7 linked regions of the Homo sapiens genome follow. The protein of the gene in region 6 purifies or fractionates together with the protein of the main gene of each other region. This does not show direct contact. Each region holds a gene or a part of one and is shown on either strand. Other genes may lie near its edges. The genes, in order: FAM162A, MYDGF, SLBP, URI1, MEX3D, KSR2 and PRKAA1.

Region 1 (4,409 bases), on a different chromosome or scaffold from region 6:
ACATAATGTAGGCTTTTATGAGCTCGAATTTGTTGTTTTGTAGATGTAGTTGTAGATACAGATCAGGGTTGTTAACTTGTGGTACTGGACACCTCCACATTTGAGAGGTCCTGTGAACTTCTCAAATTTTTATGATTGTATACCATTTTTGAGAGAGAGGGTCCATATTTTATATCTGCTACTCAGAGCAGTTCATGCTCTTTAAGTTAAAAAGCACTGATACAGATGATTAGGAACTAAATGGCCATTTACCCACACTACGCTGGGTTTCATAAGGGTAAACACTGGCTCTGTTTTGTTTTTACTCAGTCCTTACCACTTATTGGTGTTCAGTTCATAGTAGACAGGCAATACATATTTTTTGGATGAAGGATGCTAGGAAATATCTTGGAACATGCTGCAAATGTAAGGTGAGTTTTCACACCTGTTTTCTCCTGAAAGAATAAAATAGATATAACTTTTAGGATATTGTATCTTTCCACAGAATGATTATTAGTTCAAAGGAATGGAATGACCTTACAAGAATGTTTCTTATTGAAAGAAAGTTTTGCTCCCCTAAACTCTGTTGACTGGTCAGATTTGAAAATGAATTTGTTACCGTCATTGTTACCAATGTAATGGACTATGGGCTGCCTTCCTTTTAGTTTAACCCACATCTCAGAGCATTAGAGTAGAGAGGTATCTTAGAAGTCAGGTAATTTAGTCCTCTAATTTTTACAGATGAGGAAACTTAAGGGCCAAGAAGGGAATCAGCTTGCCAAGGACCACACAGGTACAGACCTGGGACATAGCCAGTATCCCCTGGCTCCCATTCTGATTTTATTTCTACCACATTCTGCTACCTTATTCTTTTTGTTTGTTCTTGCTAACCAAACCTAAATGAGAACGTACGCATTTTAACTACCCCCACATTTGGCTTTACTTATTGCTCCTTTCCAGGTCTTGCCAAGTATTTATTGAGTACACAATGGATGCCCTGTGTGTATACTGTGAAGGCTCTAAAATGAATGGACTGCCCCACTCCTAGGGCTGATTTATTGCAATGAACAAACAAACATATATAATATACCATTGGCTTCAAGAATTCTGAGATTCTTGAAGGCTCCATTGAAATGAAGGGGTGTGAGAGTGATGTGAGCACATGTAGGGGCGGTAATGAGTTGTGAGCACATGTAGGGGCGGTAATGAGTCTGAAAAAGGATATGAGAGAGGAAAGATTACCTTAGGGATTTTGATCAGGAGGCAATAGGAGGTAAAGTGTAGTGTTTGGAGACGTTTGAACCAAATGAATTTGGACCAAAAAAACCTTTTAGCAGGAGAAGTAACACAAGAAACATTTCTGGAAAATTAACTCAGCAACTACATACCAGTTGAATTGCTGCTACCTATGAAGATATTACAGTAACTGATGTGTGAGGTGATGATGGAAATAACGAATATATTTAGGAAGTGTCTTGAAGAAAGGATGAGTTTGGAGATACTGAGTAAGGAAGGACTTAAAGACAAGTTTTTTAATGTTGAGGACTACAGAAGTATTGCCTCATTGTCAGAAATAAGAAAGTTGGAAAAATAATCAGAAACGCCATCAAAGATTTGTGTTAGTTTGGCAGAGAAGATGGTGCATTATTGAGTAGGTTTAGGTGGCACTGAGTTATAGGTTGTGAGAGGTTGAAGACCTGAGGGCAAAGGAAGAGTAAAGTTATGGAGATAAAGATATGGGAGCAATTAGTCTGGAGTTGATTTTTAAAACAGAATGGAGGAGTCCTTCCAGAGAGTAGCACAGAATAGAAGCAAGGACTAAGCCTTGGAGGTGTGACATGGTGTAAATAATAGGAACTGGGAAAGAAGACATTAAAGAAGATTGGTCATAGAGGTTGGAGATGAAGTGAGAGAATTTGGTGGTACAATGTAAGGAGGCATTGAATCCTTGTAGAAAGATGAGATCAGTCGAATCAAATGGCCACAAAAATGGGAAGAGTAGAGTCAGAAGGGCTAATGATGAGAATCTAAAAAAATGTATTCATGACCGGGCACGGTGGCTCAAGCTTGTAATCCCAGCATTTTGGGAGGCCGAGGTGGGCGGATCACGAGGTCAGGAGATCGAGACCATCCTTGCTAACACGGTGAAACCCTGTCTCTACTAAAAACACAAAAAATTAGCCGGGCGTGGTGGTGGGCGCCTGTAGTCCCAGCTACTCAGGAGGCTGAGGCAGGAGAATGGCGTGAAGCCGGGAGGCAGAGCTTGCAGTGAGCTGAGATCACAGCACTGCACTCCAGCCTGGGCAACAGAGCAAGACTCCGTCTCAAAAAAAAAAAAAATGTATTCATATGACTAGAAAGAGGTCACTAATGTTGGTAGAGTAATTTTAGTAAAATGATTGGAGAAGGAAACATTGTAGCAAAATAAAGTGTGGGTGGTGAAGTGAAGTAGTAGATACATGCCATTTATTCAATCATTTGAGCTATGAAAAAGAGGAAATAAGAATTTTATTAATAGTACCTGTTGAGAACAAGTGAATGCTTTGTCCAACATAGTGGACCTTCAGTGTTATTGTAGAGTAATAAGACAGAATTCTCAGTAACTACTAGTAGAAGTTACTGGAGAAGTAGTCAGCCTTTCTGGAAAGTAGTATAGATGGATAGATAGATAGATAGATAGATAGATAGATAGATAGATAGATAGATAGATAGATGAGATAGATAGATGGAAACTTAAAGGGGTTCATACCCTTTTACCCTTCACTTCCAGGATTTTATTCTAAGGAAATAATCAGAAATACCATCAAAGATGTATGTAGAGAACTGTTCATTGAAACATTACTTATAACACTGAAAAATTGGAAAGAAATCAAGTTGTAGGGAATTACTACATTCAGATTATAGCTGTGTGTCGGGTTTTATACAGCTATTAAAAGTATTAATATCTTGGAAAGTATTTGTGACATAGCAAGATACAGTATTATCTGATTATGAAAAATGTATATGTTTTATGTAAGTATAGGAAAGGTCTGAAAAGAAATATTAATGCACCAAGTTGTTATCCCTAAGTGCTATGATTATGAGTGCTTTTATTTTTCTTCACATCTTTTTTTAACTTCCAAATTTTCTGTAATGAGCAAGTGTTACTTTTATCATTTAAAGTTTGTTTTACTAAAAGCTTTTTACATAACATGGTGTGTAACAACTTGGTGGTACAAAGGTTTTTACATAGTGAGACCCGATCTCTACAAAACAAATTTTTTTAATTAGCTAGACATGGTGGCATCTGCCTGTGGTCCCAACTACTCCAGAAGATGATACAGGAGGATCGCTTGAGCCCGGTTCAAAGTTACAGTGAGCTATGATCTCTCCACTGCCCTTTACCCTAGGTGACAAAGTGAGACCTTGTCTCTAAAAAAAAAAATAAGTTTTTTAGTTTTGATTTTAAAGATGGGGGAGATAACATTTGGCAGGAAAAAGGCAGTGGAAAATAAGGATAAGTTTGGTACGACATCCCTCAGCAGAGGGATTACTACTTAAGAATAAAGGAAGACTGGTATTTCTTCAAGCCTGCAGGGAAGGATGAGAAAACGGATATAGGGAGTCTGTTTCTGTCACAAAGCCCAGGTCAACAGCTAAGGCCTAGAGAGTTTCAGATAGACACTCTGGGGAGTGGGTTGTAATATTGATTCTCTGATTCCCAGAGAGTTGTCATATCTCCAGTCACATCACCTATGGTTTTCTCCAAGAGGACCTTGAAAGATTCTGAGAAAGAAAAAGCATCCCTACCTTTCCTCACTGTCTATCATGGGGTTGGAAAGGATATTTATGGAAAGGAGGGGACTACCAGGAGAGAAGCTGGTACTTCAACCAGCCTCACCCTGGCTGACCACTATAGCCTCCAGCTAGCAATGATATTTCTAAGGCACTGGTTTTCAGATTATGGGTCCCCCATAGCAGAAGTTTCACCATTACCTGGGCAATTGTTAGAAGTGCACATTCTCAGGTTCTGTCCATACTGACTGTATCAGTTGGGTCCAGTAATCTGTTTCACAGGGTCCCCCAGGTGATTTCGATAGATAAAAAAGTTAAGAACCTTTACTCTTAAGATTAGCCGTTTGCCACCCAGAGCCTTAGAGACAGCTGTGAGGCTTCATCTTAACTTCCTGCTAGGGCCCTGGAGACACAGAATTGGTCAGCCAGGGACAAGCTGTTAAGTCCAGCTAGAGGGTTAAAGGGCTGTTTTTCTTTTGGTTTGTATGTTTTTAATCGTGATCCACCAGAGGATGGAAAATTTCTGGCTTGGACGTCTGGTCAATATATTCTGTCTCTTTGAGAGAAAACGAAGGTCTTAGTAATGATATTAAAGTTTGTTTATGCTTTCATGTTGTTATAATTGCAAAATAAAAACCAAGACCACATCAAATACT
Region 2 (4,207 bases), on a different chromosome or scaffold from region 6:
TGGAGCCTCAGAGTCAAGAGCTGGAAAGCCTCCTGGCCTTGGCGGGGGGGTCTTCAGACCTCAGAGCACTGCCATTCTTGGTCTAGGGGCCCTTCCCGCTGATGTGTGCGGCCGTCAGTCCTTTCCTCATGTGGTGGCATCAAGTGTGTGCTGGGAAGTCAAGGCTGGCTGGTTCTTTTTCTTTTGAGACAAGGTGTCACTCTGTGGCCCAGGCTGGACTGCAGTGGCGCGATCTTGGCTCACTGCTGCCTTGGACTCCTGGGTTCAGGCGATTCTCCTGCCTCAGGCTCCTGAGTGGCTGGGATTACAGGTGTGCCCCACCACACCTGGCTAATTTTAAAATTATTTATTTTTTGGTAGAGATGGGGGTCTTGCTATGTTGCCTAAGCTGGTCTTGAACTCCTGGTGTCAAGAGATTCTCCCACCTTGGCCTCCCGAAGTGCGGGGATTCACGGGCGTAAACCATCCTGTCTGGTCTGTTTTTGTTTTTTAGTCACTGTTGCAACCCAGCTTCAAAAAACTACGGGAGGCTGGCCACAGTGGCTCATGCCTGTAATCCCAGCACTTTGGGAGGCCGAGACAGGTGGATTGCTTGAGCTCAGTTCGAAACCAGCCTGAGCAACATGGCAAAACGCTGTCTCTATCAAAAGAAGATGCAAAAATTAGCCGGGCATGGTGGCGTGTGCCTGTAGTCCCAGCTACTTGGAAGGCTGAGGTGGCAAGATCGCTTGAGCCCAGGAGGTGGAGGTTGCAGTGAGCCGTGTTACACCACTACACTTCAGCCTGGGTGACAGGAGAAGACCCTGTCTCAAAAGAAAAACAAACTAAGGGAAACCAATGCCCCAGGCTGCAGAGAGCAGGTCGGCCTTGGAACATCCTCCCGCGCTGGGGCCTGTGGCAGCCACAGAAACCCGGGTGTGAATTCACAACATGTGGGGGACCCAGGGACAGCGAGTGCCAAGGGGGGAAGGGGGCAAGTTCACATACAGCCACCTTGGGATCTAGCGCTTTGATGCCTGCAGAGAAGTCCCACCCAGAGACACCGCCCACCCGCCCACGGTGGGGCAGTGTCAGCCGCGTCTGAGCTCCTGACCCGCAACGGCCAGCCGGGAGGGCCCAGGCTGTGGGGTTGCTTTTTAATGTTCTTATTTATTTAAATATGAAAAAACATTTCATCTCTTCCCAGTTCATCTGAAAGGAGGTCCCCTGGGTAAACATAGGAAAGCAGTTCTGCAGGCTCATGAAGGATGCTCGGCTGGAGGTCGGGGGGAGCATGGCTGCTTTCCCCAGCATAGCCCCCATGTTCCCCACCCTCTTTGTGCCCCGGATCTGCGATCCTGAGTCCAGAAGAGCTCAGCAGGAAGTGGGAACTGAGAAGCTGTTGGGAGCCAGGAGGGCCCTGGACCCTCTGTTCTCTGCCCCAGGGCTTCAGCCACCCTGCAAGCCCCTCCGGACAAGGCAACGTCAGCCCAGGTAGAAAACTTAAGAGTCCCTCCTAGAAAACCAGTGATGTGCTGGCCCTTTCAGGGACACAGGCCCCTTCAGCTTCACCGGAGATGAGAAGGTGCCACCCGCAACAGGGCTGCTGGTCACAGCTCAGTGCGCGATGCCTTGGCCACAATCACCAGCTTGGACAGCTCAGCTTTGAATGCCCCGGGCCTGTGAGCCACTGCAAGAAAGAAACACATGGTTGGGCCCTCAACATTGAAAATTCTCAGAAGTCCGGAGGATTTGGGGTGGGGCCCATGGTGGGGGCTAAGCAGGCAAGGGGAGCAGTCTCCAAAGCAGACTCCCATGTGAAAAGGCCCCAGGCACTGAAAGTCTTACGGGTGACAGACAGGAAAACAGTGATGTGGAGGGTAAGGTCGGTGGGGCTAACATAGATGGCAGGCAGCAGGAAGCCACAGAAAGACCTGAGGTGGGAAGAACCCTGGTCATTTGTGCCATGTTGTCAAGAAGAGATGCAGAAAGGGGCCAGAAGAAGCCCAGGAAGGAGATGATCCCGGCCTGAACAGGATGCAGGGTGGGTCAGGCTGCAAGACCTCCTGCTCAGTGGGTGAACCTGTCTGAGGCCCTCATGACACTTCTCCAGCAGGGTCAGAACTCTGGCTTCCACTGCTTCACCCAAGTCTCCCGGCCCTACCTGCTGTGTCCACTCCCTTGGCTCCCACCCTTGCCCCAGCTCGGCGCCTCCGATTCCTCTTTCTGCTTAGCATTGGCGCCATGCAGCTGAATGTGGCTTGAGGACACCGGTGCTGCTCAGGCAACCGAAGAAGGACCCTGATGTTTCCCAGTGACCCCTGCAGCCTCCCCTCGGCATGCCACAGTCCCAACCTCAAAGCCCTGATGGTTTCTACTTTGTTTTATTTCATTTATTTATTTTTTAAAATTTATTATTTTTTTTGAGATGAGAGTCTTCCTCTGTTGCCTAGGCTGGAGTGCAGTGGTGCAGTCTCGACTCACTGCAACCTCCTGCTCCTAAGTTCAAGAGATTCTCCTGTCTCTGCCTCCTGAGTAGCTGGGATTACAAGCATGTGCCACCATCCTTGGCTAATTTTGGTATTTTTAGTAGAGAAGGGGTTTCACCATGTTGGCTAGGCTGGTCTGGAACTCCTGGCCTCCCAAAGTGCTGGGATTACAGGTGTGAGCCACCATGCCCAGCCCTGTTTATTGTTTTTGAGACAGAGTCTTACTCTGATGCCCAGGCTGGAGTGCAGTGGTGCGATCATAGCTCAATGCAGCCTCGACCTCCTGGGCTCAAATAATCCTCCCACCTCAGCCTCCTAAGTAGCTGAGACTACAGGTACACACCACCATGCCCGGCTAATTTTTTTTCTTTTTGAGACAGAATCTTGCTGTCTTCCAGGCTAGAGTGCAGTGGCATGATCTCAGCTCACTGCAACCTCCACCTCCCAGGTTCCAGCAATTCTCCTGAATAGCTGGGATTACAGGTGCGCACCACCACGCCTGGCTAATTTTTTGCATTTTTAGTAGAGATGGGGTTTCATTATGTTGGCCAGCTGGTCTGGAACTCCTGACCTCAAGTGTTCCGCCCGCCTCGTCCTCCCAAAGTGCTGGGATTACAGGCGTGAGCCACCGCACCCAGCCTGATTTTTAAAAAAATTTTGTAGAGACAGGGTCTCGCTATGTTGCCCAGGCTGGTCTTGACCTCCTGGGCTCCAATGATCCTCCCACCTTAGCCTCCTGAGCAGCTGCGGTAACAGGCATGAGCCACCGCGCCCAGCTAAGATAAAGTTCTAGTGGCACACAGCCACACCCACGCATGGACATACTGTCTGCAGCAGCTTTGTGCCACAATGGCACAGCTCTAGACAGAACCCACAGTGCCACAAAGCTGAAGATATTGACGAGGTGGCCTTTATAGAATCAGTTTGTGGATGCCTGGTCTACAGTCTCCAGGACCCCTATGGCTGACCCCCCTCTCCAAACTGCCCCGATTGCCCACCCTTGGATGGGGGTGGCGTCACCTCTACCCCATCCCCATCTTTCCGTACCTGCTGTTTTGGTCACTTCAAATTCCTCAGTTTTCAGAGGGACATCACTTTCCCTTTCAAATGCGGCTTTAGACTGAAAAAGAATGAGTGGAAACTTTACCAGGGCCAGTTCAATGCTCATCATTAGGAAAACGATTGAGTTTGCTTTCCAGAGAAGCACAGACTAAAGCTTTCTACTTTTACTAGAGATGGAGAGGAGACTTTTTTGTTTTTGAGCCAGGACCTCACTCTACTGTCCAGGCTGGAATGCAGCAGTGCAATCATAGCTCACTGCAGCTTCAAAGTCCTGGACTCAAGTGATCCTCCTGCTGCGGCCTCCTGAGTAGGTGGGACTATGGGTGCATGCCAACACGCCTGGCTATTTTTTTTTTACTTTTGGTAGATATAGGGTCTTGCTATGTTGCCTAGGCTGGAATCAAATTCCTGGCCTCCAGCAATCCTCCTGCCTCAGCCTCCCAAATTGCTGGGATTACTGGCGTGAACCGCCGCGCCTGGCCTGGAGAAGTCTTTTCTGGCATATACAAGAGAAGCCAGCAGCAACAGGTTACCAAACCCCCGTGCCCCTGGCCTGGGGGCGTCTGTGTGCCAGGTTCCTGCAAGTTACACACCCTACCTCTGCAGGATTCGCTGTCCCCTCTCCTCCCTGTCCCCATGGAGCCCTCTTGTGGCAGGACATCTCACAGCTGCCCCAG
Region 3 (4,409 bases), on a different chromosome or scaffold from region 6:
GGTGGATCACGCCTATAATCCCAACACTTTGGGAGGCCGAGGCGGGCAAATCACCTGAGGTCAGGAGTTCAAGACCAGCCTGGCCAATATGGTGAAACCTAGCCTCTACTAAAAATACAAAAATTAGCCGGACGTGGTGGCACACAGCTATAATCCCAGCTACTCGAGAGGCTGAGGCAGGAGAATCGCTTGAACCTAGGAAGCGGAAGTTGCAGTGAGCTGAGATTGCATCATTACACTCCAGCCTGGGAAACAGAGCAAGACTCCATCTCAAAAAAATAAGTAAGTAAATAAAAGCCGTAGCTTTCCATCACAAAGGGTATAATCAACAGAGCAGCCCAAACAGTGCTGTTTTCCAAAACAGGACAATTTTCAGGCACAGACCCATGAGATATCTGAAGAACAAATAGGGTCCACTCACAGGACAATCTGGACAGGTGGAATACGCATGAATAAGAGCTGCAGATAACCCCTGGCAAGGGGTGACTTGAGGGAGCAACTAGGCTATCGGTATGCAAGAACTGTTCTAAGACTTGTGCATGCAACACAAACTATACAAGTCAAGTCAAACATTCTAATTTTATAATTGAGGAAGTCAAGACCTATATAAATGCAATAATTCACTAAAAACACTGGTACTCTCATCTGTGAACTCCTAGTTCATTTCTTCTACCAAGGCATACATCCACCCACACATTTTGATACCAGAAGAAATGACAAATAACTCCCCCAAATGTTCAATAACCAATTCCCACATATTCCCGTCCCTTTTCAAAGGAGGCTGATATAAATACCATCACTGGCTGCCAAAATGAAAACAGGTAGTCTAGGTATCGTTCCGCGGCTGACACGCAAGACACATTTTTCTTGAGACCCTGTTTATCAGCCACTTGTTGGCTAAAATTATCTTGTAAAATACTTCAACCAATTATGAGCCACATTTTAACTGGGTTTGAATAAACCCAGTCCTTGCAACTGGGTTTGAGTTAGACAACTCATCAAAAGAGAAAGGATCAACACACTGATAATCAAGGGAGATTAAACATGGTTAAGGATGCATTAGGTAATGAGTCAACGAAGACGAAGTAGCTTAGTTTGCAAGAACTTGGATACACACAACAATCTTGTGTGCAACTGCAAGAGGTTCACAGAATCCAAGTTTGAGACCTTTCCTTGTATGTTGGCATTTCTGAGCTGTTTGTTGCCTAAGCCAAGTGTCAATGTATTCCTTCATCTGGAGAGAGCACTCCATCTACTGTGCTGGGTTGTGTGAGCACCGCACACAGAAGGTCGGTGGTAACAAATGACTATAGTAAGTTCCTGATAGTTAGGCCGGGCACAGTGACTCATGCCTGTAATCCCAGCACTTTGGGAGGCCGAGGTGGGCGGATCAGGAGTTCAAGACCAGCCTGACAAACATAGTGAAACCCCATCTCTACAAAAAATACAAAAATTAGCCAGGCGTGGTGGCCTGTGCCTGTAATCTCAGCTACTCAGGAGGCTGAGGCAAGAGAATCGCTTGAACCCGGGAGGCAGAGGTTGCAGTGAGCCGAGATCTTGTCACTGTACTCCAGCCCGGGCAACAGAGCGAGACTGTCTCAAAAAAAAAAAAAAAAAAAGAAAGTTAGTTCTGATAGTCCTCCAGCCTGCAATCCAGCAGTAACACCATTGTGCACCTACTTCCACTCTTGGAAGGATTACCACCAAGAGGACAGTGGTCTTCAAGCTTGAAAGAGTGGACCCGCCTGGAGGGCTTTTCACAGGATGGCCAGGCCCCACCCCATTCGCAGGCCCAGGGAAGGGTCTGAGAATCTGTATTTCTAACAAGTTCCCAGGAAATGTTGATGCCTTTGGTCTGGAGCCCAGACCTTTGAAAACCACTGTTCTAAGACAAATATCAAATTTAATGTGTTACTGAAAACGCCACAGATTAACACTTCAAGGTGGTCCAAAATGTGTACCTTGCCATTTCTTTGTTAACTCTGGTCCTCATTTCATCTTCTTCAACTGCACTTGCCCAGTCAGAGCATCTGGAACGGGGTTTAGGGCCTTCAGGAGTGGTAAAGCTGCAATAAAAGGAAAATGCTACTGAACCATGACACATACTTTGTTTTCTTTCAAACTGTATGTCAAGAAATATTCAAAGGCTGGTGGGACACAGTGGCTTGTGCCTGTAATACCAGCACTTTGGAAACTGAGGTAGGAGGATCACTTGAACCCAGGAGTTCAAGACCAGCATGGGCAAGATAGTGAGACCTCATCTCTGTCCCCCACCCAAAAAAATAAAAGCATTATATCAGTGAACTATGTGTATCAAACCATACTAAACTGGAGTTTAGCAGGACAAAAGCAAACTAGATGTAGAACATAACCTATCAGCTGCATCTGTCTATCCAGGGCTGTCTTACTAGAGCAGAAGTCATGGAGCTCCTTGGCAGTGTGCCCACTGTGTTTGGGGGTCTAATAAAACCAACTAGATTTTAGACTTCAAACTAAATTATGATTCCTTTTGGGTGTCCACACTTCAGTAGTCCAGGGCTATCATATGGCTGAAATCAACTTATTTCGTTCATCTCTGGTATGTGTTTATAAAGTCATTAAGATGGGAGATTTGCTTCAAATTTTTGCAGTGTGTGTGGCAGTCAGAAAAACCCATATCTAGTTTTCAGCTTCAGTTCTGGCATTTCTATGGGTTAACCTTATCTCATTGATCCAACATCCGGCCTGATGCTGGAGCTTATGAAGTTGACTCTAAGAAGTTCAGAGAGTGTAGAGTTTCCCATCTTGTATTTAATTTGTCTCTATGCCATTAGTCCCAGCTTGAAGTCATTACCAATGTCAATGTTGACAGGATTGTGACAATATTGCCTTTCATAAAACCGACCACCAAAGAATTCCATTATTCTAACAAAGCCCGAGTTTCACAGATCGCGGGCACATCTAGACAGATGTGTGCATGCTTGACGGTGCAGAGCAACTACTCACTTCCAGCAACCTCGTGCTTCCCCTGGCTGGCCATACAGAGGGATTCGCTGTCATACTGAGAAGGCTCTGCAAGGTAAGTCTCTAATTGAGGCTATCTCAGGTGGGTGTTTCCGCTGTGTAGTCCCAAGCCTGTATCCATATAATAAAAGTGCAGGTCTGGCATTCCTCCAGGTTATCTGGCCAGTGTAGACTCCTCCATCTGAATATGAACCTCCAGGGTAAGAATTTTCCAGACATGTCTATACTAAACAGTATGATCCTGTACTTGCCAAATGTCTGCCTCCTCCTGTTCTGCACTGACCCATTCTTTTTTTTTTTTCTTTTTGAGACGGAGTCTCACTCTTGTTGCCAAGACTGCAGTGCAATGGCATGATCTCAGCTCACTGCAACCTCTGCCTCCCAGGTTCAAGCGATTCTCCTGCCTCAGCCTCCCGAGTAGCTGAAATTACAGGCATGAGCCACCACGTCCAGCTAATTTTGTATTTTTAATACAGGCTGAGTTTCTCCATGTTGGCCAGGCTGGTCTCGAACTCCTGACCTCAGGTGATCCACCTGCCTCGGCCTCCCAAAGTACTGGGATTATAGCTGTGAGCCACCGTACCCAGACTGCACTGACCCATCCTAATTCCTGTTAAGTGTGAGAAGAATTGTCTTCTGTTCTCTCTCCATTCTCATTCATGATGAGATTACTGATCCATTAACCAGTTGAGAAATGACTGATGCTGAAGAAATGGTATTCTATTGGCAAGGCTTATTAACAAACTTCTGATAATGAAGCAGGCTACCAAAAACTTATCCAGCCCACCCCAGGAGTGTTTGGATTTGATCATGGATGTAGCACACACCAAAATCACTAAGACTTTAGACTACTTGTTTTATTTTGTCAGATTATCATGGGACTGTCTTTAGTTCTGAATTATCTGTAAGTCTGAGTACTTCATAGAATTATAAAGCAGGTACAGCTGACACCTTCTCACCATGTTGTAAATATTTACTGAGACTGGGTACAGTACTGAGGGATGATAATCTTCTGATTTATCCAATGCTGACTGTCTACAGCAAATTGTCCACTCTGCAAATGGTCCTGTAACGTGTATGAATGTATTTCTGGGTGCCTTAGAAGTTGTCTTTTTCATGTGTGCTAATATGCAGTATTTATACATTGTGAGAAGTTGATTTTAATAAAAAGGTTGGAACGTCATCTCCAAAATAAATAAATACCCAAGCATGGTGGGGCGTGCCTGTAGTCCCAGCTACACAGGAGGCCCAGGCAGGAGGATCACTCTAGCCCAGGAGGTCAAGGCTGTGTGAGCCATGATCCTGGCACTGCACTCCAGTCTGGGCAACAGGGCAAGACCATATCTCAAAAAAATATATATGGTGGCAGAGGACAGTGGCTCATACTTGTAATCCCAGCACTTTGG
Region 4 (4,409 bases), on a different chromosome or scaffold from region 6:
GAAAAAAGTATGCCCATTCTCTTTCGCTAATATACATGACAAAAATAATGCAGCAAAGCCAAAAGATTTATCATTGCCAGAAATTACATACAGGCCTAACAATAAGATTCTGATTAGTGTCACAAAAGATCAAAATATATATCAATTATAAACTTATAGGAGTTGATTTGCAATTAGAGTCTCCAAATATAGTTCCCAGAATTTCACTGAGTAAATGAGTTCTCTAGTACTCATTCATGTATAAGTGAAATCAAGTTCAGCTTTAGAAAACTCAGCTGTTTTCTGTTTAGTATGACCTTATTTATAAAAAAGGATCTTCCCATCATTTATTTTCAAATACACATTTAACTAAAAGGTTAAAAAGCAGGTAGGGCGGATATTATACTCTCAATCTAAATACGTATTACAGAAATAACAACAGATTATAAACTGAACCTAATTTTAAAATATAACTAAGCTAGAACCCAAGCTAGCTCATCCAACTGCAAAATGTGTAGTGTGTGTTGTGTGTGTGTATGTAGGCTTCTATACACCTACAGATAATAGCACGGATAAACAAAACTCAAGAGCTGCCCTAATAAAGGGATGCAGAGAACTCAAACAACTGAAAAAGGATAAGGGTGCTGTTTTAGGTAGCACCTTTTCACACCTGGTCTCCTCTATCAAATGAAAATATGGTTTTTTTTCCAAACCAAAAAGCATTTTTAAGAATTGTCTACTTATGTAAACAGGTATTTCTCTTAGTTCACTAAGGAGAAAACACATTATTTCTGTGTACTAAAGTATTAAGTGCAAAAATAAGTCTATAATAGCAACTAAAAAAAAATTATAAGGTATAAAATGACTCCAATTTTTATGTCTTCCCAACTTCTAACTACAAAATCACATAATGACTTTGAAACTTTGTAACTTCTGAAAACATGCCAATGTAGGTGACATTTCCAACCCGGATGCTCCATTCTCCAGCTCATTCTCAAATGTTGGTTCTACTCAAACTACCTACAATTCAACAGAATCACAAACAGCCTGGATTCATAGATCACGGAAGGTACTTTTGGTAAGAAACAGCCCTTCAGCTTGGCAATCTGTGAATGGATACATATACAACAAAGAAACATCATTTAAAATGGGTACCTACGTTCTTTCCGGTGCTCAACTAAACCTACAGCCTGCTTTGCTGAGCACTTTGCAAACCAGTTGTCCCCCAGTAAAACAGTGACTTCATTAGTATGGACAAGTTTTCCTGGCATGAAGGCAAAAGGGCCAAATGGTACCTATTGTTTAAAAAAAAAGAAAAAAGGGAAAAAACATAAAACACTGAAAAGTACATTTTATAAAACACTTCGCATTAAAAGCCTTACATAACTGAATTTTTTTATTTATACATTGGGAAAAATAAAATGCCAGCTTCACAGAAATTCAACACTATATTAAAATTTTACTAGGAAAATCTAAAGAAAATTGCTTTATGTTCATAAATCAATGTTAAAACAGGAAAATAAATCCACACCATATTTACATATAGCTCTTAAAGAAAGTAGTACTGTCTCGGCATGTTTATACTTTTCATTCACTTGCAAATCTAAGTGAAAGCAACTAGTAGTGAAACATTGTCAATGCAAAATACTTTTGATAAAGAAAACTAAAAATTATTTTCAATAAAGTAGACACTTTTGCAAAGCAGGAATTAGTAAACAAATAGCTTTAATGGATCTATCTAGCTATATATACAAAATACTTGGACTAGTATAAAAGAACAAAGTCTTCATAAGAAAGAACATTCATGCAATGAAAGGCTCTAATCCAGGGCTCATGAACAGATCACTATGTCGATGTGAAGATCATTAAAACAAAAATTAGCAGCACGTTTTTATATAAAAATCAATGTCCTAAGGTTTAATTCTGTGAATTACAAAACATTATGGCCTATTCCTGCTCTGGCTAACAAGAAACGACTTAGTACCATATTTCTGTCATAATTACATTTTTTATATAGTAAGTTTCCATTTGAAATATGTCCAATTTTGTGCTAATATTTATGTCATTTGTGTCACCATATATATTCTGAAAAAAAAAGGTAAATACCAACAATTACTACAATTACTGTGTTCTTATAAAGTAAAACAAAACAAATCTTCCTTGCTACATAGTTACCTTGGACACAGTCCATCAGCCTGACATTCTGTGAACCGACACATAGTTAATATGTTTACAAGAAACAACTATTACTTTAAAAGAAACACACCAAACATACCATTATATTATAAGACAATTTATCAGGCAAGGTGCTGAGTCTTTCTCGAAGGGCATTATAGTCATTATCTACCTTCTTCCTGTTGACAGAAAACACCAAATACACACATTATTAACGATTTTTCTTTTTTTTTTTTTTTTTTTTTTTTTTTTTTTTTTTTTTTTTTTTTTTTTTTTTTTTTTGAGACAGAGTGTCGCTCCGTCGCCCAGGCTAAAGTGCAGTGGCGTGATCTCGGCTCACTGCACCCTCCACCTCCCGGGTTCAAGCAATTCTCCTGCCTCAGCCTCCTGAGTAGCTGGGATTACAAGTGTGCGCCACCATGCAAGGCTAGTTTTTGTATTTTCAGTAGAGAGGAGGTTTCACCATGTTGGTCAGGCTGGTCTTGAACTCCTGACCTCATGATCCTCCCACTTCAGCCTCCTGAAGTGCTAGAGTTACAGGCGTGAGCCACTGCACCTGGCCTCACTCAAAAGCTTTATTAAATCTCTTCTTTCAGTCGTGTGTGGTGGCTCACGCCTGTAATCCCAGCAATTTGGGAGGCCCAGTAGGCCAGGTATCATAAAACAAGCTAATCAAAAACATAATTTTAGCAAATTCAAGATTAATGTGGTTTTATTTTTAGTTTTAAAATCCTGTTTTTATACAGTTTAGCAATGGCATTATTCTACCATACATTTATTGAAGAATTAAGACTCTTCAGGGACTCTGGCATTTAGAAGCAGAATACTCAAATTTTGAGAATTACTGTTTTTTAAGATACAAGACTATCTGGACCAAATAAAATGTGAAAATTAAGGGAGACAGTAAAAGAGGGCCTGATATTTGGAGAGAAGAAGGGACTCAAGATGAAAAAAGAAGAGATTTATTTATTTTAAGACAGAGTCTCTCTCTGTTGCCCAGGCTGGAGTGCAGTGGCACAATCTCAGCTCACTGCAACCTCCACCTCCTGGGTTCAAGTGATTCCCCTGCCTTAGCCTCCTGAGTAGCTGAGACTACAGACGCATGACACCACGCCCAGCTAATTTTTGTATCTTCCATAGAGATTAGGTTTCTTCGCCACGTTGGCCAGGCTGGTCTCGAACTCCTGGCTTCAAGCGATCCCCCCACCGCAGCCTCCCAAAGTGCTGGGATTACAGGCATGAGCCACCACACCCGGCCGAAAGAAGAGATTTAATAAAGCTTTTGAGTGAATAGATACTGGCTGTGAAGTTGAAATCATGAACATGAAATTTGATCAGATGCTTTAGTCCTCATCAGAAAACCTTAGGCTGAAAAATGCATCATCAGCTCTTCAATTATTCATAATAATGTGATTAAGGTAAGAGAGAATCAACTGGGGGTAGAAGAAATTAAGTAGAGATAATACAAAAGGCGTTTCAATTTGGCCTAGGAGTCTGTTTCTTGTTACATCAAACAGAGCTACCAAATAAGTAATTTCAAACAACCAAAAGGTATATGTAACTCTGTAGGGGCAGAGATGATCGTATTTCCATGCTATGGGCCTTACTCAGCTCTTAACACCTGCTGGAAATGAACAGCCCTTCTTTTTGAGTAATACCAGGCAGCAGCCTATGCCAAGATGCCCGTCAAACTTTCTCTGGAGACTGGGTTTCCAAAGGGTTCCCTGCTAAGATACAGGCTGCAAGCAAAACTACAGCACTGAATTTTTTTTAAGCAGAAGGATGTTGTCAGTTTTTAAAAATAACAGAAACAAAAATTCACCAACTCAGCAAGTAATTTAAAAGAACATGTAGACATTGTCAAATTGAAATCAGGATAAACTGCAATGTAGGTAACAACTCTCCAGATAATATAAATGACAAACATCACAGAATTGGTTTCAGCTTACTGCTTAGTTCCCTGAAGCAACAGTAGCATAATTAATAAAAAAAAATTAGCTCAGTCTTAAGATCTTAAGGAATTTCACATATATATTATTTTACATAACCTATAATAAATGTCACTTATCAGTATTTTTCTCTTACAGAAGACAAAGTAGAAGGAAGATGGAAAAACCACATAGCAAGAAGCCAGATCTCCTCTATCAAGATGAGGTAAGCAATGAGTTTAACCTAGCTAGGTCTTCTGACCTGCATTCCTTCATGAAAGCTTTCTCATTTTCTAGTGTGCAACTGCTTTATAACTTTCCCCAAAA
Region 5 (4,409 bases), on a different chromosome or scaffold from region 6:
AGGGGCTCAAGACCAGCCTGGCCAACATGGTGAAACCCTGTCTCTACTAAAATACAAAAAATTAGCCAGGCGTGGTGGCAGGCATCTGTAGTCCCAGGTACTCGGGAGGCTGAGGCGGAAGAATCGCTTGAACCTGGGAGGCAGAGACTGCAGTGAGCCGAGATCGCACACCATTGCACTCCAGCCTGGGTGACAGAGCGAGACTGTCTCAAAAAAAAAAAAAAAAAAAAAAAAAAAAAAAAAAAAAAGCCGCAATTAGCAAGGTGTGGTGGCGCACGCCTGTAATCCCAGCCACTGGGGAGGGCTGAGGCAGAACCGCCTGAACTCAGGAGGTGGAGGGTGCAGTGAGCCAACATCATGCCACTGCACTCCAGCCTAGCCACAGACCAAGACTCCATTTCAAAAAAAAAAAAAAAAAAAGAGCCACAGTGGCAGGGTCAGTGGCTCACACCCGTAATCCTAGTACTTCGGGAATCTGAGGCAGGAGGATCACTGGAGCCCAGGAGTTTGAGACCAGCCTGGGCAACACAGCAGGACCCCATCTCTACTACAAACAACAACAAAAAATTAGCCAGGTGTGGTGGTACACACCTGTAGTCTTAGCTACTCAGGAGGCTGAAGTGGGAGGATCACCTGAGCCCGGGAGGTGGAGGCTGCAGTGAGCTATGATCACACCACTGCACTTCAGCCTGGGTGACAGAGCAAAGCCTTGTCTCAAAAAAAGAAGGAAAAAAAAAAAAAAGACACACACACACAGAGAAGCTGGCCTTGTGGAGACACAGACAGAGACTGCAGTGATGTCTCTACAAGCCAAGGACTGGCCATAGCCCCCGGAAACTGAAGGCGCCCCCCGCCCTGCCCACACCTTGACTTGGAACTTTTATCTTACAGAAATGAGAGAGGAGACGTTTCCATGGTTTCAAGCCCCCATTGTGTCAGCCCAGAGAGCAACTGGAGACCCTCTGACACCACCTCCCGGCCCAACAGGAGGGGAAGCCGAAATTCAGATTGTGGAAACTGCCTACAATTTTCTTCCGGCCAAATGACCCTCCCTAGGCTACCAAGACCCTGGCCTAAGGGGAGCCGAGGTCTCGGCCCGACTGCAGACGCCCGCACCCTGACTCCAGATGCCTCCGAGGCATCCAGGTGGGCCCTGAGGGGCCTGCTGTGGCTTTGTTCTTGTTGGCTGGGCTGGGGGTCTGACCTGGTGAGGGACATGAGTGTCAGTGTGGGAGGCAGGGCTCTCCTCACCGATTGTGTAGGCAACCGCTGACCAGGTATGGCCTTCTTGGGGTCCCAGACATCCCTACCCCACCCCTGGGGCCTTAATGGTTTTTTTTTTTTTCTTTTCCTTTTTTGAGATTATCTCACTCTTGTTACCCAGGCTGGAGTGCAGTGGTGTGATCATAGCTCACTGCAGCCTTCAACTCCTGGGCTCAAGTGATCCTCCCACCTCAGCCTCCAGAGCTGGCACCACCATGCCCAGCTTAATTAGTTATTGAGACGGAGTTTTGCTCTTGTTGCCCAGGCTGGAGTGCAGTGGTACCATCTCGGCTCACTGCAACCTCTGCCTCCTAGGTTCAAACAATTCTCCTGCCTCAGCTTCCTGAGTAGCTGGGATTACAGGCGCCCACCACCACACCCAGCTAATTTTTTTTATTTTTAGTACAGATGGGATTGCACCATGTTGGCCAGGCTGGTCTTGAACTCCTGACCTCAGGTGATCCACCTGCCTTGGCCTCCCAAAGTGCTGGGATTACAGGCGTGAGCCACCACGCCCGGCCTATTTTTATTTTTAGTAGAGATGGGATCTCACTATATTGCCCAGGCTGGTTTCAAATTCTTGGGCTCAAGCAGTCCTCCTGCCTCGGCCTCCCAAAGTGCTGGGATGACAGGTGTGGGCCACTGCGCCCGGCCCGTGAAGGAGTTTTGAGCCACTGCTCACAACCCCTCAGGCTCTGGGGAAGCAGAGGGAGCTGCAGGGATGTTTCAATACAGTCAGAAGGTGGCTCTGAGGGGAAAACAGTGTTGCTAACTCTCCCACAGTGCAAGAGATGAAATGAGCAGGATCAGCACTTTTGACGGGGAAGAAGTCAGAAACTGCCTGGGCCAGGAAGATGGAAGGCGTGGGACCTGGAGGCTGGTGGTCCCAGGGGCTCGGTAGGGAGGACCCTGGGAGGGGTGGCGGGGGTGCACCCACTCGGAGGAGGACAGCAGTTTTCCCGCCCCAGCTGCACTGCCACCACACCTGTCCCTCCCAGTCGCAGCATTCTGTTCACCTCCATTGCACCCAGTCCCCTCCATTCTTCTGTACAGTCCGGTGTCCCCCTCCTCCAGGAAGCCCACCCTGACTGCATCGGGTTGGGCCTGCTCTTCTGAGTCTCTCCTAACATGCCTGACTCTCTGAGCTGCCTCCCTGAGGCTGGAGGATGGGGCTGGGGATTCCCTCGGCACTTGGGGGACCTTGCTATGCCTGTTTCTTCACTGTGAAAGGGGAAGGTAACAGGCCTGGCTTCACAGGCCCGGCTTCACAGGCCCTCAGAGGGCCATGACCAGGCCGTTGGCTCCTGGCAGCCACCCTGGCAGGTCTCACTGCAGCCCACAGTGTTTGCTTTAGATAGATCCTCCTTGAGGAAGGGAAACTGAGGCACAGGGAGTGGAGACCCAGCAAGGCTGGGGAAGGAGGTGCCACCCACAGATGGAGGCTCCGCTGGCCCTGCCCACAGGCAGGAAGTGAGCCTGTTCCCCATCACGCCGACCCGGCAGAGGGCAGAGCCCGCCAGCGTTGCCAGGGTGCAGCATGGGGTCCTCCCTTGCTGATCTGGGAGCCGCCCCGGGTCCCCAGAGGGTCACACGTGGGAGAGGCTGCCCCGACGTGGCCACCGCTGAGCTCACAGGCTGTGGTCACAGAAAGTCTGGTCTGGGTGAGATGACAAATTTGGGAGATGGAGGTGGCAAGGAAGGGGGCGTGTGACTGTCTGAGCAGAAACCAGGATGGTGCTGGGAGCCACGCGTGCGTCGGGGCAGGGGAGGGAACTGGCGCCTCCCCCTCCCCTTACTCCATCCTGCCCTAACCCAGACGGTGGCGCTGGGTGGAGACCTCACAGCTAGAAGGCCTCTAGGACCTCAAAGACGGAGCTGGAGCTCAATTCATTGGTGCTGCGTCTGCTTTGACACGTGCTGGCCCCCAAAACTCCACCCACATCAAGACGCCAAGGGGCCAAGGAATCGGGGCTCCAGGAGTGATCCCAGCCCACCCCTGCCCCACTGGAAATGACACAGCGAGGCTAGAGGGACAGGAAGCCTGAAGGGCGGGCTCTGGGGGACACCGAAGGTTGGCAGGCACTGAAATGCAGATTCGTGGGCCATGTCCCCAGAATTCCAACTCGGAGGGCTTGAGATGCCTGGGAATCGGGGTGACCACCCCAGAGTCTGGCCCTGACCTGTCCCACACCCCCAACCCACAGCAGCCAAGTCTCCCCCTACCAGGGCCCCACGCAGCACACACACCAGCGGGCATCACTCATCCAGCCCGTCCAGGGTCCTGGCTGCAATGACCGTGCACTACGACTTACCAATGAAACCACAAGTCCTGGTGTGGGAGCCGAGGCCACCAGCCCAGGCTGGATGGGTTTGCCATGGCAGGAAGGGGAATGTGAACCCCAGGGAGCCGCTGAGGCAACAGCAAGGACAGGATTCTAGAAGCAGGACGGGGCGAGAACAAGGCCTCACAGCCAACACTCAGTCCAACACGCAGCCGCCCCCAGCCAGGCAGCCGGGTGACGCGGGACAGCAGCATCCCAGACCTGGGCCACTATGGAAGCCAGCGGGAGCTGAGGGGTCTGGTGGGGAGGAGGGAAGCTGGTTCAGCTGTCAAACAGGGATGTCAAAACCCCCTCCCAGGCCAGGAACAGTGGCTCACACCCGTACGTAGTTCCGGCACTTTGGGAGGCCAAGGCAGGAGGATCACTTGAGGCCAGGAGTTCGAGACCAGCCTGGGCAACATAGCAAGATCCTGTCTCTATAAAGGGTGTCACCTGTCGCCCAGGCTGGAGTGCAGTCACAGCTCACTGCAGCCTTGACCTCCTGGGCTCAAGCCATCCTCTCACCTCAGCCTCCCGAGTAGCTGGGACTACAGTTATGCACCACCACCCCCGGCTAATTGTTTAAAGCTTTTCTGCAGAGACAGGGTCTTATTATGTTGCCCAGGCTGGTCTGGAACTCTTGGGCTCAGGTGATCCTCCCATCTCAGCCTCCCAAAGTGCTAGGATTACAGGTGTGAGCCACCATATCCGGCCTCTACAAAAAATTTTTAAAAATTAGCCAGGTGTGGCCGGGCACGGTGGCTCACACCTGTAATCCCAGCACTTTGGGAGGCCAAAATGGGTGGATCACGAGGTCAGGAGATC
Region 6 (4,409 bases):
GAAAGGCTTTACGTGGTTGCATGAGAATCTGTGTCTTTAGACCAAATTTGTATTTGCACTGTCAATATGGCAAATGAATGAAAAATGTTAATACACCATTAGATTTTTAGATTTTTTTTTTTTAATAGCAAAGACTTGGAACCAACCCAAATGTCCAACAATGATAGACTGGATTAAGAAAATGTGGCACATATACACCATGGAATACTATGCAGCCATAAAAAATGATGAGTTCATGTCCTTTGTAGGGACATGGATGAAATTGGAAATCATCATTCTCAGTAAACTATCGCAAGGACAAAAAACCAAACACCGCATGTTCTCACTCATAGGTGGGAATTGAACAATGAGAACACATGGACACAGGAAGGGGAACATCACACTCTGGGGACTGTTGTGGGGTCGGGGGAGAGGGGAGGGATAGCATTAGGAGATATACCTAATGTTAAATGACGAGTTAATGAGTGCAGCACACCAACATGGCACATGTATGCATATGTAACTAACCTGCACATTGTGCACATGTACCCTAAAACTTAAAGTATAATAATAATAAAATAAAAAAAAGGTTTTTTTTTTTTTGAGACTGAGTTTCACTCTTGTTGCCCAGGCTGGAGTGCAATGGTGCGATCTCAGCTCACTGCAACCTCTGCCTCCTGGGTTCAAGCGATTCTTATTGCCTCAGCCTTCTGAGTAGCTGGGATTACAGGCACACGCCACCACACCTAGCTAATTTTTTTGTATTTTTAGTAGAGATGGAGTTTCACCATGTTGGCCAGGCTGGTCTCAAACTCGTGACCTCAAGTAATCTGCCCATCTCGGCCTCCCAATTGCTGGAACTACAGGTGTGAGCCTCCGTGCCCAGCTGCCCATATTCTTTTTATCACGTCATTCTGTTTATTTCCCTCCCAGCACCAATAACCATGTGAAATCCTTCTGTGAGCATGTTTTCTTGTCTATCATGGCTGCTTTGGCAGAATGTAAGTCCAGGGGACCAGGGTCTCATCTGTGTTGCTTTTGTGTCTTTTCCAAGCAAAGGGCATAGTTGGCACTCACAGGATGTTTACTGGACAAATGCATGAATAAGAACATGGCGACACAGATCTGGAGGAAGTATGCGGTGGCTGAGGAAGTGGTCAGGGAGGGACTAAGGATGAACTTGACTTCCTTGGAATTTGTGTATCTCACATGAGGGTTAGGTATTAAAATTTCCATGTAAGGGAAAAGTTATCCTTTAAAGTCCTTTAAATCACTTTGAAACTACCAGAACTGGGACCTTGGGAAGTTCAAAAAGTGAGAATTAACTTCTTTGCTTTTCTGAGCATTTGGGCTGTGGGGTCTTCCCAGCTATGGGGCAGTGGAAGGCAAGGCTGTTGAATGGAGAATAGGGTAACAGGGTCAACAAGGGGATTTTATTGTCTTTTTGGAGGAGCCAAGTAGAGATGGTTGGCTTTATGTAAATGTACTTATGATGTAATGTGGGTATGATGTAACATGCATTTGATAGAATGTCTGTAAGAGGTAATGGGCATATGAAATAGCATGCATATGATGTAATGCACATATAATGTGACATGCATATGGTGTAATGTGCATATGATATGTGCATATAACATGCATACAACATAACAGATATATAGTGTAACATGCATATGATATGATGTGCATATGATATAACATGCATACGATGTAACAGGTATATAGTGTAACATGCATATGATGTAATGGGCACATGGTATAATGTGCATAAGATATAATTTGCATATGAGATAACATGCATACGATGTAACAGGTATATAGTGTAACATGCACATGATGTAATGGGCACGTGGTGTAATGTGTGTATGATGTAATGGTGTGTATGGTGTAACTCACCTGGCTTTCTCATGGCTTACCCATTGTCTCTGCTCTTCTGTTCCAACTCAGGAGGCAACCTTTCCAAACAAGACTGGACCATCCAGTGGCCCACGACAGAGACGGGGAAGGAGAACAATCCCGTGTGCCCCCCGGAGCCCACCCCGTGGATCCGCACCCATCTCTCCCAGAGCCCCAGGGTCCCGTCCAAGTGCGTCCAGCACTATTGTCACACCAGCCCCACTCCCGGGGCCCCTGTGTACACCCACGTGGACAGGCTTACCGTGGACGCCTACCCGGGCTTGTGCCCGCCCCCGCCACTGGAGTCGGGCCACCGTTCCCTGCCCCCATCGCCCCGGCAGCGGCACGCGGTCCGCACCCCGCCGCGCACCCCCAACATCGTCACCACCGTGACCCCGCCGGGCACGCCGCCCATGAGGAAGAAGAACAAGCTGAAGCCCCCGGGGACCCCACCGCCCTCCTCCCGAAAACTGATACACTTGATCCCGGGATTCACCGCGCTGCATCGGAGCAAATCCCACGAGTTCCAGCTGGGGCACCGCGTGGACGAGGCCCACACGCCCAAGTGAGTGCGATCGGTGGGTGCCCTGGGGCGGTCGAAACCCGGCCTGCGAGGGGCTGCCCCTTGGTCCCAGGAACTGCCCAGGTCAAGGAAACCGGGAACAGACTTGCGTTCCAGACTCTGGTTGAATGAAAAATGGCTTTTCACAGAGGGTTCTGAGCAAATGAATAGAACAGAATTTCCCAGAATTGGCCGTTTAAAAAATACGATTAATATCCTATGGCCTAGGGGCTAAATCTGATACCCGGCCTGATTTTGTAAATAAAAGGTATTGGAACACGCCCATGATCATTCCTTTATGTGTTGCCTATGGCTGCTTTTGTGTGACAATGGCAGAGTGAGAATAGCCCACAAAGCTGAAAGTATTTACCATCTGGCTTTTTACTGAAAACGTTTGCCAACCCCTGCAGAGTCTAGCCTAGTGCCGCTCCTAGAAATAGGATATGAGGCATATATTAACCTTCAACTTTCTAGTAGTCACATTAAAAAGAATGAAAAGGAACAAGTGATATTAATGATCATAATACATCATTCAACCCAATATATCAAAATTATAATATCTTAACAAAGAATCAATGTAAAATATCATTACAGAGATATTTTGCATTTTTTAAAATACAAAGTCTTTGAAATTGAATGTGTATTTTATATCCACGGCTCATCTCAGTTGAAGGTGGTAGGAAGCAGGACACGTTGGGGAAATTGACAGAGGACCCCTTTGGGGGAGAGAGCAGGTGTGTGATGTAGGGTGAGACTCGAGGATTAGGCAGGTTGCTGTGCTATTCACAGTAGCCAAAAAGTAGAAACAACCTGTGTCCATCAGTAGACAAATGAGTAAACACAGTGTGGTCTATCTATACAATGCAATATTATTCAGGCTTAAAAAGGAAGAAACTTCTTTTTTTTTGAGACGGAGTCTAGCTCTGTTGCCCAGGCTGGAGCAGTGGTGGGATGTCAGCTCACTGCAACCTCTGCCTCCCAGGTTCAAGTGATTCTCCTGCCTCAGCCTCCCAAGTAGCTGGGACTACAGGCCTGTGCCACCACGCCTGGCTAATTTTTTGTAGTTTTTGTAGAGATAGGGTTTCACCATGTTGACCAGACTGGTCTTGAACTTCTGACCTCAAATGATCTGCCCGCCTTGGCCTCCCAAAGTGCTGGGATTACAGGCATGAGCCATCATGCCCGACCTGGGAGGAACTTCTGATATATGCTACAACATGAGTGAACCTTGAAGACAGCATGCTAAGAGTAAAATATGCCAGACACATAATGACAAATACTGTATAATTCCACCAATATGAGATACCTAGAGTAGACAATTTATAGAGGCAGAAAGTAGAACGGTGGATGCCAGGGCTGAGGGGAGGGAGAATGGGGAGTTGTTATTTATTGGATATAGACTTTGCATTTGGGATGATGAAAACATTCTGGAGATGGATGGTGGTGATGGTTGTACAACAATGCAAATGTAATTAGTACCATTGAACTGTACACTTCAAAATGGTTAAGATGGTAAATTTTATATTATGTATATTTTATCACCATTTTAAAAAGGCAGGATTCTGTAAGTGAAGGGTTGGCACACTTTTTCTGTACAGGGGCAGATAGTAAATACTTTAGGCTTTGCAGACCATTCAGTCTCTGTTGCAGTTACTCAACTCTATCATGTAGCACAAAACCAGCACAGACAATAGGTAAACAAATGGGCATGGCAGTGTTCCAATAAAACTTTATTTATAAAAACAGGTACCTGGCCCAATTTGGCCCATGAACTGTGATTTACCAAGCCCTGTCTGAAGCCGTAGTGTAGAGAGTGATCTCTTTTCTGAAGCATTGGGAATGCCCTACAGTGATTGACGTGGAACATGTGATTTTACAACAGTCATATTTAAGCTGCTATGTGAAACCTAGCTTGAAGACGTAGAATGCATGTTTGAGACCTCTGAGGGTGAAGCAGAGGATAGATGCTTTT
Region 7 (4,409 bases), on a different chromosome or scaffold from region 6:
TATATTAAAATCATAGAATCGATGCACTTAAAATTTGGAGGGTATACTGGAAACCATCTCATCCAGCCCCTCACTTTATTGATAAGAAAACAAACCCAGAGAAATGACTTGCCCAAGGTAACAAATGAACAGAAAGGTAAGTCTAGAACCCAACTCTCCTAAGTCTCAGCTCAGTGCTTTTTACTTTCCACTTTCCCTTCATATTTCATTTAGTATTTCATAAAAGAGCAACAATTCCAATGAATAAAAATCGAAGAAAAACTAAGGTTGGGAACACAGTACAAAAACAAAATGGGCATTCAATTGGTATACCCCAGTACTAGTAAATCTAAGGTTGCAAATTTGATCCAAATACAAGAAAAATAAAACTCATTCCGTATTTCAGACTGCATTAGTATATGTTAGCAGATACGTACTATATGGACCTAAAGATAACCAGACAAACTGGTTTGGCCAACATATCATGGCTCAAACCTGTGTCTTTCTGCTACTATGTGTGTACTATCTTTGAGTTTATAAAGAAGAAAAAAATTCAAACGTGAACCTCATCTAATAATTCTATGCAACCTTCCATAAGCAAAGGTGATACTATATATATATATTTTAATATTTTGTAAAGACAGAGTCTCAGTATGTTGCTAAGGCTGGTCTCAAATTCCTGGGCTCAAGCCATCCTCCCACCTCAGCCTCCCAAAGTGCTGGGCTGTTTACAGGCATAAGCCACCACACCTGCACTCAACAGCGTAGCTTAATGCAATTGAATTGGCCAATGAAGAATTGCCATAACTTCATTCTTAACTGAAAACTTATTTAATAATAAATAAAAGCTTACAGAAGAGTCAATATTTATTTCTAAATAAAACATTGTCTCTTATCAAAATGAACTACACCAAAAAAACAAATGCAGCAGAAAACTATCACCTTAGGATCAGACTACACCTGGCTTTAAGGATTTTACAAGATGATAATCTTAAAAGGACAATATGCTATAAGATTACAAGAAAAATAAGATTCATAAATGTTAATATTGCAAAGGCACAAGAAATCACATTTTTTATTCCTTTGCAGTTGAATTACTAGGAACAAGTCAAGAAGCCTCAAAAGAATCAAGGCGTAAAATACCAAGTTAGTAACAAGGTCTAATCTATGTTGTTTTGTGTGATGTACATACCATCAATACTACGGAAATCCAGTAGATAAGTTCTACTATCCACTTGGTATAACTGTAGACTCATTTTGGAGTAAGTGCTTGTCACAGGATTCTTCCTTCGTACACGCAAATAATATGGGTTTACAACCTAGCACATGGTATAACAAAAACCAAGTCAAAAGTAATTCTTCTATAAAACATTTTATAGACTATGGGTTTGCCAAATATGCTAATAATCAAAATGTTATTTCTTTCTTACCTTCCATTCATAATCCAATTGTTTGATTGCTCTACATACTTCTGCCATAATATCATTTGGTCGACTTTGACTTCTAATTCCTAAATGCCATTTTGCTTTCCTTACACCTTGGTGTTTGGATTTCTGTGGATTTAATTCATCAAGGGTATGGCGTGCCCTTGGTGTTTCAGCAACCAAGAATGGTACTCTTTCAGGATGGGGCCGAGTCAGGTGATGATCATCAAGAAAAGAATCAGGTGGGCTTGTCGCCAAATAGAAATCTTTGGCTTCATTCATTATTCTCCTGTTATCTATTATGAGATGGTAGGCAACTGCCAAAGGATCCTGGTGATTTCTGTTGTAAAGACAGCTGAGAACTTCCTCTTCTGAGCACTCAAACTTTTCACATACTTCTTTTAAGGCTTCATCATCAATCATGGTTGAACTATATGATGGATCCTCAGGAAAGAGATATTTTGGAAGGTCCTGTTTAAACCATTCATGTTCCCTGAGAGAAAAATGGCAGGATCAGGAGAAGGACTTTGAATAGAGCTGAGACTGAAAGTAACAGTTTAGGGAATTTAGAATATGACTTAATTTATATTTATATTCATACTGTATTATTGTCACTTTTTGCACTGAAATTTTCCTCTTCTAGCTCGCACTTCATTGTGTATGTTGAGGGAAATGCTCCAATTTCCCTCCAGTTTTAAGAGGGAGAATGTATTGACACAGCAATGGGGGGAAAAAAGTTATGGGACAAATGACAGCGACAAACAATGAAAAGAACAGCTTATTTCCAGCTTAGAAAGAGAACATATTAGGTAGCTTCATTATAATACTCTTTTGATATAATGTTAAGTGAAGATAATGTAACAACAAGAAAAATAGTAGACAACTACTGAGTACTTACTATATGCTAAGTTTTATGCTAAACACTTCATATACACTATCTCCCCTCATCATCGAAACAATTATATGAAGATAATATCTCTTTGTTTTAAATGAAGGAATTGAGGTTAAAAAAAAAATCAAGGAACATGCTCAAGGTCACAAAGACAGTAAGTGACAGAACCAGGATTATGACCCAGTTCTGTGTGACTGGAAAGGCCATGCCCTGAATGATTTCCTATTCTAATTCCCTAACTTCGTATATTTAAGAATATGTTTGACCTGAACTATGTCACTTTGCTAAAACTAAATAAAATCCAGAGACGAAAAAAAAAACAAGAAAAGAACAATGGTTATCTTCTGGGTCATGGGATTAAAGATAATTTTTTATTCTCTTCTCTATTGTTGGTGTTTTTCTAAGTTTTTTCAATTGTCATGTATTATATTTTAATTGGAAGAAAATAGGTAAAATACAAACAAAAACATTTCTTACCTAGATATCTTAAAATATAAATTTTAGAGAATGATTTGTCCTTTCCCTTTGGTGATAAAATCATGCCGTGCCATTCATGGTCTCTTTTTTAGCTAGTCTAAAACGTGTAGTAAGTGGAAAGTAATCAAGCTTCAAGTTCCACATATAATCTTTCCTTCTTCTTCATTATACTAATGCTTTCATATTTACTATTCCTAGATCCATATCTGATTTCTTTCTTCCTTCTCAGATAAATGTGCAGTCTAGCCATTAGAAGACCAAAAGGACCAAAATTTCCACAGGGGGGAAAAAAAAGAAACAAGGCTTGCAATAAAATTGTTTAAGTCTTCATCAGAAATGGCTCACTCTAATTTGAGAAGAAAATTTGTCATCGTCATTTTTGTCTAATTTAAACTATTAGGTTGAACCAGATGAAACTGGTTATACTGACTTTTACCTACAAAACAGGAATTTTGCATGTAATTCAATGTATACTACCAGGAAAAACATGTCAATTAAATCTCATTCCTTGGGATTAAAAAAAGAAAAAAAATACAATAATTCATGAGATAAGAAATAAAATAGCCACCCACAAATTTACTACTGAAAAGTATTAATCCTAACGCCAGGCATACTGGCTCACACCTGTAATCCCAACACTGGGAGGGAAAGGCACAAGGATCACTTGAGGCCAGGAGTTCAAGACCAGCCTGGGCAAAAATAGCAAGACCTGTCACTACAAACAAAAACAAAAAGCAAAACAATAACAACAAAAAACAGCCAGGCATGATGGTGGATGCCTGTAGTCTCAACTACTAGGGAGGCTAAAGTGGGAGGATCACTTGACCCAGGAGTTACTGGCTACAGTGAGCTATGATCACACCACTGCACTCCAGGCTGGGTGACAGAGCAAAACCTTGTCTCAAAAAAAATAAATAAATAAAAATAAAAGATATACATATATATGGGGCCTCGCTATGTTACCCAGGCTGGTCTCAAACTCCTGAGCTCACATGATCCTCTTTCCTCAGCTTCCCAAAGTGCTGGAATTACAGGTGTGAGCCACAGCACCAATCTTTCATTAGCTTTTTTGTTAATTTAAAAAGTAATATGATGTTCACTGTAAAAATTTCAAAACAAAGATGTGTAAGTAAAAAGTGAAAGCCCTCCCTCTTACGAATCTTACTTCCCTAAGGTAACCAGTTTACTATGTATTTCTAATAACAAAATAAAATAAATGTGTCTATACACTCTATTTTTTTCACATAAAAACAGGATTACACTGTATATTCTGTTCTGCAACTTTTTTTTTTTCACATAACTTTTATCATGGATACTATCAGATCTGATAACTTCCAAACTGCTTTATTACCTGATATCTTTGATTGTGGCCCTCTTCATGGGATCCACCTGCAGCATATGTTTCAAAAGGCTAATCACAGAAGGATTTAAATATTGAGGGGTATAGAAGATCCCATCACATATCTTCTTAAAAAGAGTTGGCACATGGTCATCATCAAATGGAAGGGTTCCACATAATAAAGCATAGAGAATAACCCCACTGCTCCATATATCTACCTCTGGGCCTGCATACAATCTGTAACAGGAAATAACAATTGGATTAAAGAATCATTTTAACCTAAGATTCAGTTCATCAA

The links.
Region 1: the proteins of KSR2 (region 6) and FAM162A purify together in Homo sapiens (co-immunoprecipitation; one large-scale study listed by IntAct). This does not show direct contact.
Region 2: the proteins of KSR2 (region 6) and MYDGF purify together in Homo sapiens (co-immunoprecipitation; one large-scale study listed by IntAct). This does not show direct contact.
Region 3: the proteins of KSR2 (region 6) and SLBP purify together in Homo sapiens (co-immunoprecipitation; one large-scale study listed by IntAct). This does not show direct contact.
Region 4: the proteins of KSR2 (region 6) and URI1 purify together in Homo sapiens (affinity purification with mass spectrometry; 2 studies listed by BioGRID and IntAct, with this or other methods). This does not show direct contact.
Region 5: the proteins of KSR2 (region 6) and MEX3D purify together in Homo sapiens (co-immunoprecipitation; one large-scale study listed by IntAct). This does not show direct contact.
Region 7: the proteins of KSR2 (region 6) and PRKAA1 purify together in Homo sapiens (affinity purification with western blotting; 2 studies listed by BioGRID and IntAct, with this or other methods). This does not show direct contact.

Annotation. Positions count from the first base shown.
Region 1 is NC_000003.12:122,386,744-122,391,152, forward strand, and holds part of FAM162A (protein FAM162A), read left to right. Parts: intron 1-4,409. UniProt on the Homo sapiens protein: Proposed to be involved in regulation of apoptosis; the exact mechanism may differ between cell types/tissues.
Region 2 is NC_000019.10:4,656,416-4,660,622, forward strand, and holds the end of MYDGF (myeloid-derived growth factor precursor), read right to left. Parts: intron 3,589-4,207; coding exon 3,516-3,588; intron 1,670-3,515; coding exon 1,590-1,669; 3' UTR 1,130-1,589; downstream 1-1,129. UniProt on the Homo sapiens protein: Bone marrow-derived monocyte and paracrine-acting protein that promotes cardiac myocyte survival and adaptive angiogenesis for cardiac protection and/or repair after myocardial infarction (MI).
Region 3 is NC_000004.12:1,701,635-1,706,043, forward strand, and holds part of SLBP (histone RNA hairpin-binding protein), read right to left. Parts: intron 2,067-4,409; coding exon 1,962-2,066; intron 1-1,961. UniProt on the Homo sapiens protein: RNA-binding protein involved in the histone pre-mRNA processing.
Region 4 is NC_000019.10:29,983,147-29,987,555, reverse strand, and holds part of URI1 (unconventional prefoldin RPB5 interactor 1), read right to left. Parts: intron 2,334-4,409; coding exon 2,255-2,333; intron 1,275-2,254; coding exon 1,139-1,274; intron 1-1,138. UniProt on the Homo sapiens protein: Involved in gene transcription regulation. Acts as a transcriptional repressor in concert with the corepressor UXT to regulate androgen receptor (AR) transcription.
Region 5 is NC_000019.10:1,557,649-1,562,057, forward strand, and holds part of MEX3D (RNA-binding protein MEX3D), read right to left. Parts: intron 1-4,409.
Region 6 is NC_000012.12:117,759,042-117,763,450, reverse strand, and holds part of KSR2 (kinase suppressor of Ras 2), read left to right. Parts: intron 1-1,926; coding exon 1,927-2,440; intron 2,441-4,409. UniProt on the Homo sapiens protein: Location-regulated scaffold connecting MEK to RAF. Has very low protein kinase activity and can phosphorylate MAP2K1 at several Ser and Thr residues with very low efficiency (in vitro).
Region 7 is NC_000005.10:40,763,343-40,767,751, forward strand, and holds part of PRKAA1 (5'-AMP-activated protein kinase catalytic subunit alpha-1), read right to left. Parts: intron 4,349-4,409; coding exon 4,124-4,348; intron 1,897-4,123; coding exon 1,410-1,896; intron 1,299-1,409; coding exon 1,172-1,298; intron 1,126-1,171; exon of another isoform or gene 1-1,125. UniProt on the Homo sapiens protein: Catalytic subunit of AMP-activated protein kinase (AMPK), an energy sensor protein kinase that plays a key role in regulating cellular energy metabolism.